Linked DNA regions of Homo sapiens: region 1 is linked to region 2. Evidence: fine-mapped expression QTL. Tissue or cell type: whole blood. Region 2 holds a variant in brackets; the other region holds the start of a gene. All regions are shown on one strand. Distances are between the middles of the regions.

What was found. PIP is the estimated chance that this variant, and not a neighbour inherited with it, causes the effect.
Region 1: it holds the start of ANXA2R, and the variant in region 2 is fine-mapped to the expression of ANXA2R in whole blood (TOPMed, PIP 0.95).

The regions. Positions count from the first base shown.
Region 1 is chr5:43,038,196-43,043,195 of GRCh38, forward strand. ANXA2R (annexin A2 receptor) reads right to left here and starts at 2,124. Exons shown (of 1, transcript NM_001014279.3): 1 at 1,176-2,124. The coding sequence starts at 1,851. The coding sequence ends at 1,270. All of the region lies in intron 2 of ANXA2R-OT1 (ANXA2R overlapping transcript 1), which reads right to left. ANXA2R-AS1 (ANXA2R antisense RNA 1) reads left to right here and starts at 3,939. Exons shown (of 2, transcript NR_015447.1): 1 at 3,939-5,000. RefSeq lists enhancers at 1,006-1,546, 1,238-1,287, 1,308-1,717, 1,728-1,777, 3,433-3,512 and 4 more and a silencer at 2,118-2,387.
Region 2 is chr5:43,165,825-43,171,972 of GRCh38, forward strand. All of the region lies in intron 5 of ZNF131 (zinc finger protein 131), which reads left to right. Among named protein-coding and RNA genes, the nearest start is that of NIM1K, 23 kb to the right of the region's middle. The variant C/T (reference allele first, on the strand shown) is at 3,170.

The sequences.
Region 1 (5,000 bases), 130 kb before region 2:
TGCACTTGTTACTCTAAGAAATCCCTAACCCAGGACTCGCTCAGAATATTTCGAACGCAGAATTAAGCATCTTTATCGCAGGCGAAATAAGCCGATACTTATTCCGCTTAAGTCCGAACTTGCTATGCAGAGAAACCACAATCAGGGCTACATTCCGAGTGTAGGAGGTTTAAAACTCCCGAAAAGGCAGTCAAAGCAGGCAGGGCCAAGCCGGACCTGCTGTGCCTACCCGAATTGCTAAACCCAGTTGTGGTACCATTAAGTAACTGGTAGTTCTCTTATAAGCCAAGCTAAACTGTTCCAAAGAAAAAGACGCTGGAAACACTGCTAGCCCTGAGACCCATGAATAAGTAGTCTTTTCAATTATTTATTTATTTTGAGACAGGCTCTCGCTCTGCTGGAGGGCGTTGGTGCTATCCGGCTCACCGCAGCCTCGACCTCCTGAGCTCAAGCAACCCGCCCACCCCAGCCTCCGGAGCAGCTGGGACTACAGGTGCACACCATCTCACAGGGCTAACTTTTGCATTTTTTGTAGACACAGGCCTCACCCTGTCGCCCAGGCTTTTCTCAAACTCCTGAGCTCAAGCAATCCGCATGCCTCCGCTGCTGAAAGTGCTGGGATTACTGCCGTGAGCCACGCTGCCCCGCCAGAATAAGTAATCTTAAGAACTGGTCATCTGTGAAGTTGTATTAATATAAGTAATTGCGTGGTCCTTCCACGAGAAATAGCAAAGATTGATAAACCTCTCAGTCTTATGATCGTGAATAAAATTCCTGAGTGTAAAACAATGAATCGATATACTGAAAAAAAGAAAGACCGCTGTTAAAAATAAAATTAACAATTAAAATTAAAAAGACGTTATAATAACGTAAAAGACATGATATAAAATTAAATGTAAACAAACAATACATTTAAAAAGCAATAATTAGAAAAATAGTAGGAATAAGATTTTAAAATACAATGGAAAAAAACAAATTTTAAATTTGCCAAAAACTCTAAGAATTCTACAATCGTAAAATAGATTTCTCAAAGTGAAAACAGATACGAATGAAATATTTAATGAAATAAATACAAATATTTAAAATACAAGGAAACTGAAAGTAATAAGCGACGCGAAACAAGAAAGAAACATAAGGGAAAAAGAGAATTTAAAAACTGACAACCAGCAATGAAAGCACATCTTAATGTATTTTTATTTTCTAGGTGGAGACGTTTGGTAACTGAGAATCTTTTCAAGGAGGAGAATCCAAAAAGCCTTCTGCTGCTATCTAAGGCTGCTTAGCTCCACAGATCCGTGAACAGCACGCCCAGAGTACAGAGAACGCGGCAAAACCAACGCGAAGAATCCACTCCAGGCAGTCTGAGAAACCCGGGAGGTGGCGCCACGGCTGGAGGGCAGGAGGATGGCGGCGTTCCAAAAGGCACCCGCTGTCACAGACCTCGGTGTCCTGCTGTCTGTCCCAGGGATGGAGAGGACTGCTCCAGGGAAGCTGCTGGAGCCTGAGTCTGTCGGGTTCCTCTGCCTGCCCCACCTCTTCTACGGGTGCCTCTTGCTGCTTCTGTGTCCCCGGCCAACTGAACTCAGTGGGCTTCGCTGTACTTGGTTCCAAGGTGCTCTGGACTCCAGGAGAGAGTCCGTTTTGCCAGTAGACTCCGGGCAGCCGCCAGCAAGGGCTGGAAAGCAGTCCCAAATCACAGCTGTCCAGTGAGTACTCTCCTAGTACTGGATACAAAGGAAGAGGCCACGGCCCACGATCTTCTGAACTCACAATAGGTGGAGGCTGGGGCTCTGGCGCCACCTCTGCGGAATCCCAAGCCCGCTTCACACAGCCAAGAAAATGTTGCTCCATCCCTCAAGCCTCAGACCAACGTTTGCGCTGATCAAGGAGGGAGAGTCTCTGCACTACCATCAGCCTGAGTATTTATGCTCTGCAGAGCCCGTGGGCGGAGGCCAGTCAGATATTAAGAAACTCAGTAGTAACAAATGCACGAAAATTAGTAGACAAATGAAAAACGATAACATTTTAGAGAGTACATAGAACCAAAACGAACCGTAATTCCGACAGAAAAACATGGCGAGAAAAGAAACCGAAATGAAATGACACTAAGCAAATCTTGAAGAGAACTAGCGCTACAGAACGCAGGTATTCAAGAGCGCGCAAGGGCCAAGAACCACCCGTTTCCGGGAAATGAGCGTTGCTGCCACCGGAAAACTGTCTGCTAGGGCTCTGCCCTAACCACCTTGCAAACGAGAAACTGGCGCGTTGAACTTAGCAAGCGCCGGCACCTAGCGGATAGCGCTGGTATTGCCAAACAAATATCCGTTTTGGCGCCGTAAAGGGTGCTGCTAAAGAGAAACAGCATGCTCTTAGAACTAAGAGCGGTGCTTCCACACCTAAACAACCTGTTTGGAGGAATGAACCAACTCTGTTTCAATGTGTTGTACCAGAAAAATGTGTTGCGGCATTTAATGTGTTTTAATCCGTTCAATGTGTTTGATAGGTTTAATATGTTTTAACCCGTTTTAATGGGTTGTGACAGAAAAAGCGCCGGCTAATGGTACCACACAATTACTAGTGCGAACAGCGGCTCGGTGCAATCACCGTTCTGCACGGCAAAACGGGGTTCAGGAAGTTCCTAGGAGATACTAGCGGTTGTAGGAGCGAAAAAGTGACAGCACTGAGAACCTAAGGACCCCGCGAACGGGAAATGTCACGTTGGGTGCAGCAACTGAGAAAACGCCCAGTGGGCGCCACTGGCAAACGTGCTGATACAAAACCGCCAGCTCTGCATAGGAAGCGGAGCCTCCAGACAGAACCCGGAACCTGATACCAGCGAGGCTAAGACCGAGCTCGGCTCCCCGGCTCCTGAGAGAATGAAAGTCAAGAAGCACGAATCTGAGACGCTCAAAATTAGAAGAAAAAAAAAATACATAATTTAAAATAATGAAAGTCTGAAATGCAAGTAAAAATGAAAAACACATCGGTAACATTGTCCTCAGAGCAAGACACAAAAATAATTTTAAGGTAAGCAAAAGTTACAGAGAACCAACCCTACAAAGAAGAAATTACAAATATGGCTAAGCGATGCAATGCCTACCATTAGAATATTTCTGTCAGATCTAAACCCCTGCAGGTTGCTCCTGTCATAATTTCCTACGAGAAAAAAAACAAAAATATCCACGGTTAAACGTGTTTAGCTACGTCTAAAAAATCGTAGTAGCTGGTACATCCCGATTTGGTCTACAAGAGGAAAAAGTCTCGATGGGCAGGACTTGCTATTGTCAAAGGGAGCTTGGTAAAACTGAGACATCGCGATCGCCGGCATTTCCTGACTTCCACGGGAGTTTTAAAAACACACAAGCATAGCTAAGACAGGACTCGATATTGCGAAACCAAACTTGGTATAAGAGCTCCCAACACTGCTAAACTGGTCATCGCTAAACCTTTAAAAAAAAAAAAAAAGCATTCGCTGGTACCCAGATTTCCACAGGAGTTAAACATTTCCTGCGCAGCTAAAGCAAGTCTTACCAGTAGGAAACCGGAACTTGCTAGGACTAAGAAACTTGAGGCTAGGCTGACCCCATGGTTGTTATGATTAGAAATCCGAGGCCACTGGAAACCCGGAGCTGCTGACCAACGAGTCACAGGGTAACTTCGCCTTCGCATGGGGAAACGGGTGAGTTCCTACGGCCTAGATATCGCAGCCAGGGCTAGACCGGTGTTTGTCTTAAGTCAGGACTTGCTTGGGCTGAGAAAATACATTTTGGCTATTCCCCTACTTGGACAGAGGGTGGAAATCCCAGGCACCGCGAAATCGAAACTTGCTAGGACTAAGAAGCCAACGACGCGCGAAACCGTGGGGTCCTGCGACAGAGACGCCGGCGGCGCCGCCACAGGACTGCGTTCTGGAGGCCGAGCCGGAACCCGTGCGGCGGCGCTGGGAAGAGACTGTGCCCCTGCAGCTCCCCTGTCACCGGCTCCAAGGAGCGTCGGGCTCCCCCCGCCCAGCCCTGCAGCACCCATCCGGCAACGCCAGACTCGGCGCAACGGGGGCAGCTGCGACTTTAAATCTCTCAGATCCGCGGCCTGAGGGCTGCCGCCACCGAGAAATGGAGGCACAGAGCTGTGAACAAGAGACCACGGCTCGCCGAAATGGCGGTGCCAGGAGCCTGAAAGGGAATGCAGCCGGCGGGGTTGTCAAGGACAACATTTGTTTTGGCGCAACCAGCGGTGCCGTCACCAAGAAACCGTCGACTCTGAGAAAAAAAGAGAAGTTCGGCTACCGAGAAACTCCGTGCAGCAAGTGCTGTGACAGCAAAACCGCCGGCTTCGCGCCGCTGGCGAAAGAGCCAACGGAAACGCCGGGTGCTGCGACCGCGAAGCCGGCACTAGAGGGCCTCGGATGGAGAAAGCCCCGCACCGAGACGAGGAAACTGTGCACAGCACGACTAGCAGTTGACACAAACAGAAAAGTGTCTCGTCTGCTCTCTGGGAGAAAGCGTGGATCAAAACCAGCAACTCAGTGGAGAGAACCCCGCAGCCACTGAAGAAGTTGCCCACGTGGCGGTGGGGCCAGAGAAACACCGCGATTTCGACGACAGCCGTAGGGATACCACAGAGAAACATGCGCGGCCACAGAAGTACATCCAGCTCCGCGCAATCAGTGGTTCTGCGATCCAGAAACCGCCAGCTGGGCTAGACTAGAAACTTCTAAAAAACTGTCGTCCCATAGCAGCTTTCCTAACCACGACAGACAGTCGCCTTTAGAGAGCACCTAACGGTGCTGAGACCGGCCTGGGCCAGCAAAAGCGCAGAGCGGTGCCAGTGCCAAGAAACGCCCGACTTGGTGAAACCAACCTTGTGACCACCGATTCCACTGGCTTCGCAGGACGCAACGGGCGAAGGCGCGGCGGAGAAACCGCAGGCTCCCTTCACCGATTATGCTGCGGGCTGGGGATGGTGGGGGGCACCCGCGAAATTGTGAAACCAGCGGCGCT
Region 2 (6,148 bases):
TAGATGGCATCTTCCAGTACAAGGCTGTTTTGTCTACATTGAATATCTGTTGTTGAGTGTAGCCACCTTCATCAGTGATCTTAACTAGGTATTCTGGATAACTTGCTACAGCTTCTGCACCAGCATGTGCTGCTTCACATTGCACTTTTATGTTATAGAAATTCCTTAAATTTCATTAACCTCTTCTAGCTTCTGCCCTTTCTTCTGCAACTTCTTACCTCTCTCAACCTTCATAGAATTGAAGAAAGGGCCTTGTTCTTGGTTAGGCTTTGGCTAAAGGGAATGTTTGTTTCGTTTAATCTTTTATCCAGGTTACTCACTCTTTCTTCATAAGCAGTAAGGCAATTTTGCTTTCTTACCATTCATATGTTCATTAGTGTAGCACTTTTAATTTCCTTAGAGAACTTTACCTTTTCAGTCACAACTTAACTACCTGGCATAGGAGACCTGGCTTTCGGCCTGTCTCGACTTTTGATATGCCTTGCTCTCACAGGCTTCATCACTTCTGCCTTTTGATTTGAAGTGAGAGACAAGTGACTCTTTTTTTTTTTTTGGAGACAGAGTCTTGCTCTGTCGCCCAGGCTGGAGTGCAGTCATGCGATCTCGGCTCACTGCAAGCTCTGCCTCCTGGGTTCACGCCATTCTCCTACCTCAGCCTCCCAAATAGCTGGGACTACAGGTGCCCGCTACCATGCCTGGCTAATTTTTTGTATTTTTAGTAGAGACAGGGTTTCACCGTGTTGGCCAGGATGGTCTCGATCTCTTGACCTCGTGATCCACCCCCCTCGGCCTCCCAAAGTGCTGGATTACAGGCACGAGCCACCATGCCCAGCCGTGACCCTTTTTTTTGACACGGGGTCTCGCTCTGTCGCCCAGACTGGAGTGCAGTGGCGTGATCTCGGCTCACTGCAACCTCTGCCTCCCGGGTTCAAGCAGTTCTCTGCCTCAGCCTCCCGAGTAGCTGGGATTACAGGCACCCAACACCAGGCCTGGCTGATTTTTTTTTGTATTTTTTAGTAGAGACGGGGTTTCACCATCTTGGCCAGGCTGGTCTTGAACTCCTGAGCTCGTGATCCACCCGCCTCAGCCTCCCAGAGTGCTGGGATTACAGGCATGAGCCACCGCATCCGGGTGAGACACGTGACTTTCACTTAAACACTTAGAGGCTGTTGTAAGGTTATTAATTGATCTGATTTCAATATTGTTGCCTCTCAAGGAATAGAGAGACTAGAGGAGAGAGGGAGGGAAGAGAGAAAAGCTGGTTGGTGGAATAGTCAGGATGCATACAACATTTATCAGTTAAGCTCTTTGTTATGGGTGTGGGTTCAGGGCACCCCAAAACAATTGAAGTAGTAACATCAAAGATCACTGATCACAGATCATTATAAGACATAATTTAAAAATTTAAATTTAAATTTGAAATATTGCAGTAATTACAGTGACAGACGTGAGGTGAGTACATGCTGTTGGGGAAAATGGCAGCGATAAACTTGCTTTACACGGGGTTGTCACAAATCTTCAGTTTTTCAAAAAGTCCAATAAAGTAAAGCACAATAAAATTAGGTCTGTAAGCAGTTTTAAACTATGTTTAAGTTAATAAAAAATGGATCATTTTTCCTTGTAACAAACTGTGAAGACAGGAGACAGTCCTCTTCCTGTTTCTTATTCTCAAAACGTATATACCCCATTAGTTTCATATTTTGCATATTTTTATTAGTTTAATGGTTTGGTTTCTTGTATGTTCATAAAGCATGCACTGTAATCTGTGGCTTGATTTGTAAAATTTTAGCTATTTTTTGTCCTCTGAATTTATTTTTATTTGGAAAATAGTAATGATAATGCCATATACCACTAGGCCATGAATATAAAACAGTGTCAGTGTCCCTGCCTTCAAGGAGCTCAGGATATGCTGGCAGGGGACAAGCATGTGCAATCTGTGTAACATGTTAAGTGCTGACCAAAGTAAGCAGAATCCTGTGGGAATGCCTGCCTGGGTTGCTTGTTTGTGATGGAAGAGACAAAGGTGATATCTTAGTCTGTTCTGTTGCTTATAACAATACCTGAAACTGGAGAATTTATAAAGAAAAGGAATTTATTTCTTACAGTTCTGGATGCTAAGAAGTTCACTGTTATGAGGCCACATCTGGTGAGAGCCCTGCCAGTGGCGACTCTGCAGAGTCCTGAGGCCATGCAGGGCATCACATGGTGAGGGAGTTGAGCATGCTAGCTCAGGTTTCTCTTACTCTTCTTTTAAAGCCACCCATCCCATTCCCATGATAACCCATTAATTCATTGATCCATGAATGGATTAATCTCTTCATGAGGGCAGAGCCCTCATGATCCTATCACCTCTTAAAGGTCCTACCTCTCAATACTACCATATTGGGGTTTCGGTATTAACCTGAGTTTTGAAGGGGACAAACATTCAAACTATAGCAGGTGGCTTCTGGGGGTCATTACCCTTTGATGACTCAGAAAGGAAAAGGAGTTAGCCTCGAAACAGGTATTCCAGGCAAAGGAAATGAAACATACACAGTCACAGAGGAATGAGAGGAAACAAATTGTTTGGATCACTGTTAATAGGGCATTATGGCCAGAGGGTTAGGTCCAATTAGAGGAATGCCAGGAGATGTGGCCAAAGGGGTTGGAAGGGCTAACCATGTGGCATGCACTTGGCCATCATATGGGAGATCTAGAGTGGAGTAAGGGTAAGAAAGAGGGAGAGTAATGAGAGATGAGTTTGAGATCATGTAGTTATTTTCATAAATTCCATAAATGAGTTTGAATAATATCTTGGAAGACTGGGTCATTTTAAAGGAGTTTCAGCCAGGCAGAGATCTCATCAGATTGATATTCTAGAGAGATGACTGGCAAGATAGATTGGAGTGGGTTGAAACCTGCTAGCTCAGTGAGGAATCTTGGAGTCGTCCAAACCAGAATGGGAGGTTGGGTAAAGGCAGTGTTAGCGGAAAAGAGAGATTTGAGTAACATTAGGTAGCCTGGATCAATAGGATTTGGTGGTCGGTGAGGTGCAGGAGTAAAAGAGCTGGTGACTCCCAGCTTTCTGATGTAGATGGCTGTTTGATTGGAGGCTAATTAACTTAGAAAAAAATACGTAGATGAGTAAACAGATGGGGAAGGAGGGAAATACCAGACATGTTGACAGATA[C/T]ACCTGTGGGACACAGTGTCAAAGAGAACCTAGAGGTAACCTTTAGCCATGTTTTCAAACAATTACTCCCTAGTTTCCAAGAAAAGTAGTGTGGAATCATAGAGGGAATGTGTGTCCAGAAATCAGAATTTCAGTTCCATCTCCAGTTCAGCATTTGCCAGCATGATGAACTTGACCAGTCACTTTATCTTTGGGCTTTTCTTGTCTGTGTAAATAAGGATAAAGATACCTACTTTATAGGGTTGTGACAAATAAGAAAATGATGAAAGCGCATTGAAAACTGTACTGTCCACACATCTAAAATAATTAATATGTTTCTATTTCTACATTTTACTGAGTTTACTTAATTTTTTAAATAGGAAAAAGCTCAGATGGCACACAATGAAAATTGAGTCTCGTTTCTACTCAGGTAGATCTCTTGAAGTAACTACTGCTATCCTTTTCTGATTTATCAGATACATTCCTTGCATTTTCAGGTAGCCATAGACGCTCAGGTACGCATGCTTTTGGGAAAACAAGCGAGCATGCGGTAGTACGGCATTATGCCATTTAATTTATCTTGTCATTTTAAAAAATATATGGAACATTTATGAGTATTTAAATTTTCTTCCTGTGGCTGCACAGTATTTTAATCTATGGGTATATCATCAACTACTATTGATGAACATTTAGGTTGTTGCTAGGCTTTTGGTATTACAGACTATGCTGTAGTAAGCATACTTGTACATATGCCTTTTCATATGTTCAAGTAATTTCATTTTTAAGAGCAGAATTGCCAGGTCAAAGAATATGCACTTTTTTCTTTTTTTTTTTTTGAGACAGAGTCTGGCACTATCACCCAGACTGGAGTGCAATGGCGTGATCTAGGCTCACTGCAACCTCCGTCTTCTGGTTTCAAGCAATTCTCCTGCCTCAGCCTCCCGAGTAGCTGGGCTTACAGGCACCCGCCGCCACGCCTGGCTAATTTTTTGTATTTTTAGTAGAGACGGGGTTTCACTATGTTGGCCAGGCTGGTCTCAAACTCCTGACCTTGTGATCTGCCTGCCTCATCCTCCCTAATAATATGCACATTTTATATCTTGACAAAGATTATCAAATTGTCATTTAAGGAGAGGCTTTGCCAATTTGTTTCCAGGTCTCACTGATAATGAAAAATTATTCATTGATAAAACCACTAAACCATTTAGTGATATTGCCCATCATTTTGGGAGTTGAAAAGAGTTTCTGTATTACACTAATTCCAGCTAATTAGGTCTTTTCTCTCAAATTAACTTTTCATCACATAAAAATTGTACAAAATAAGCTATAAATGTTTTGTCAGATAATACATATAGCTCAGTTACTTGACTGTGTCATTCTATTTAAGCGTGAGGCTCACATCTAGGACCTCCTCATTACTGGGGCTCCACCTTCCATCCTGGAATCATTCAGTTATTTACTCCTACCTGCTGGTTGCTGAGGACTGCTGGAGGAAATTCATATCTCAAACCTTAAGCACTTCAGTGTCTGATTTATCCCTTTTTCCTAATTGCTATTTCAGAGCTTCTCCATATATTCAAGACCTCTGTCCACACCCCATCTCCAGCAGATTACTTATCTTCCAACCCCCAACTTACCTGTAACAGCATTCATCTTTGTCCCCTTTTTTTTTTTTTTTGAGACGGAGTCTCACTCGGTCACCCAGGCTGGAGTGCAGTGGTGCAATCTCGGCTCACTGCAACCTCCGCCTCCCAGGTTCAAGTGATTCTCCTGCCTCAGCCTCCCAAGTAGCTGGGACTACAGGCGCCTGCCACCATGCCCAGCTAATTTTTTTTTTTTTTTTTAGTAGAGATGGGGTTTTACCATATTGACCAGGCTGATCTCGAACTCCTGACCTTATGATCCACCCGACTCAGTCTCCCAAAGTGCTGGGATTACAGGTGTGATGACTGCACCCGGCGATTTTTTAAATTTTTTTTTAAATTTTTTTGAGACAGAGTCTCGCTCTGTCGCCCAGGCTGGAGTGCAATGGCCTGTTCTCGGCTCACTGCAACCCCTGCCTCCTGGGTTCAAGTGATTCTCGTACCTCAGCCTCCCAAGTAGCTGGGATTACAGGTGCCTGCCACCACCCCCAGCTAATTATTTTTTTATTTCTAGTAGAGACAGGGTTTCACTATGTTGGTCAGGCTGGTCTCCAACTCCTGACCTCACGTGATCCACCCGCCTCGGTCTCCCAAAGTGCTAGGATCACAGGTGTGAGCCACCGCACCTGGTCTGTCCCCTCTTCTTTTATTCTAGAGAAAGAGGTTTCCCTTTTCTTCAAAGCCAATTCTGGATCCCATGCCTTGATGTCCCTCTAAAACCATGTCCCATCTATCATTCCATCTCCTTTCTCCATTGCCTCTTTGCCCATCAACAAATAAATAATGGATGTCCCTCCTGGCTTAAAGAATCCTGTTATTGGCTGGGCACGGTGGATCACTTGAGGTCAGGAGTTCAGGACCAGTCTCACTAACATGGTGAAACTCTGAGCTGAGATCATGCCATTGCACTCCAGCCTAGGCAACAAGAGCGAAACTCCGTCTGAAAAAAAAGAATGCTATTATTGACATGCTCCCCTCTAGGTAGTCATCTCTCTTGTAGGCCATTTTATTTATTTATTTTTTTTGAGATGGAGTCTCGCTCTGTCGCCCAAGCTAGAGTACAGTGGTGTGATCTCAGCCTACTGCAACTTCTGCCTCACCGGTTCAAGCAGTTCTGTCTCAGCCTCCCAGGTAGCTGGGACTACAGGCTCGTGCCAGCATGCCCAGCTAATTTTTGTATTTTTGGTAGAGTCGGAGATTCGCAGTGTTGGCCAGGCTGGTCTTGAACTCCTGACCTCAAGTGATCCACCCACCTCGGCCTCCCAAAGTGCTGGGATTACGGGTGTGAGCCACCGCCCCGGGCCAGCCGTTTTATTTTTAAATAGAGATGGGGTCTCACTATGTTGCCCAGGCTGTT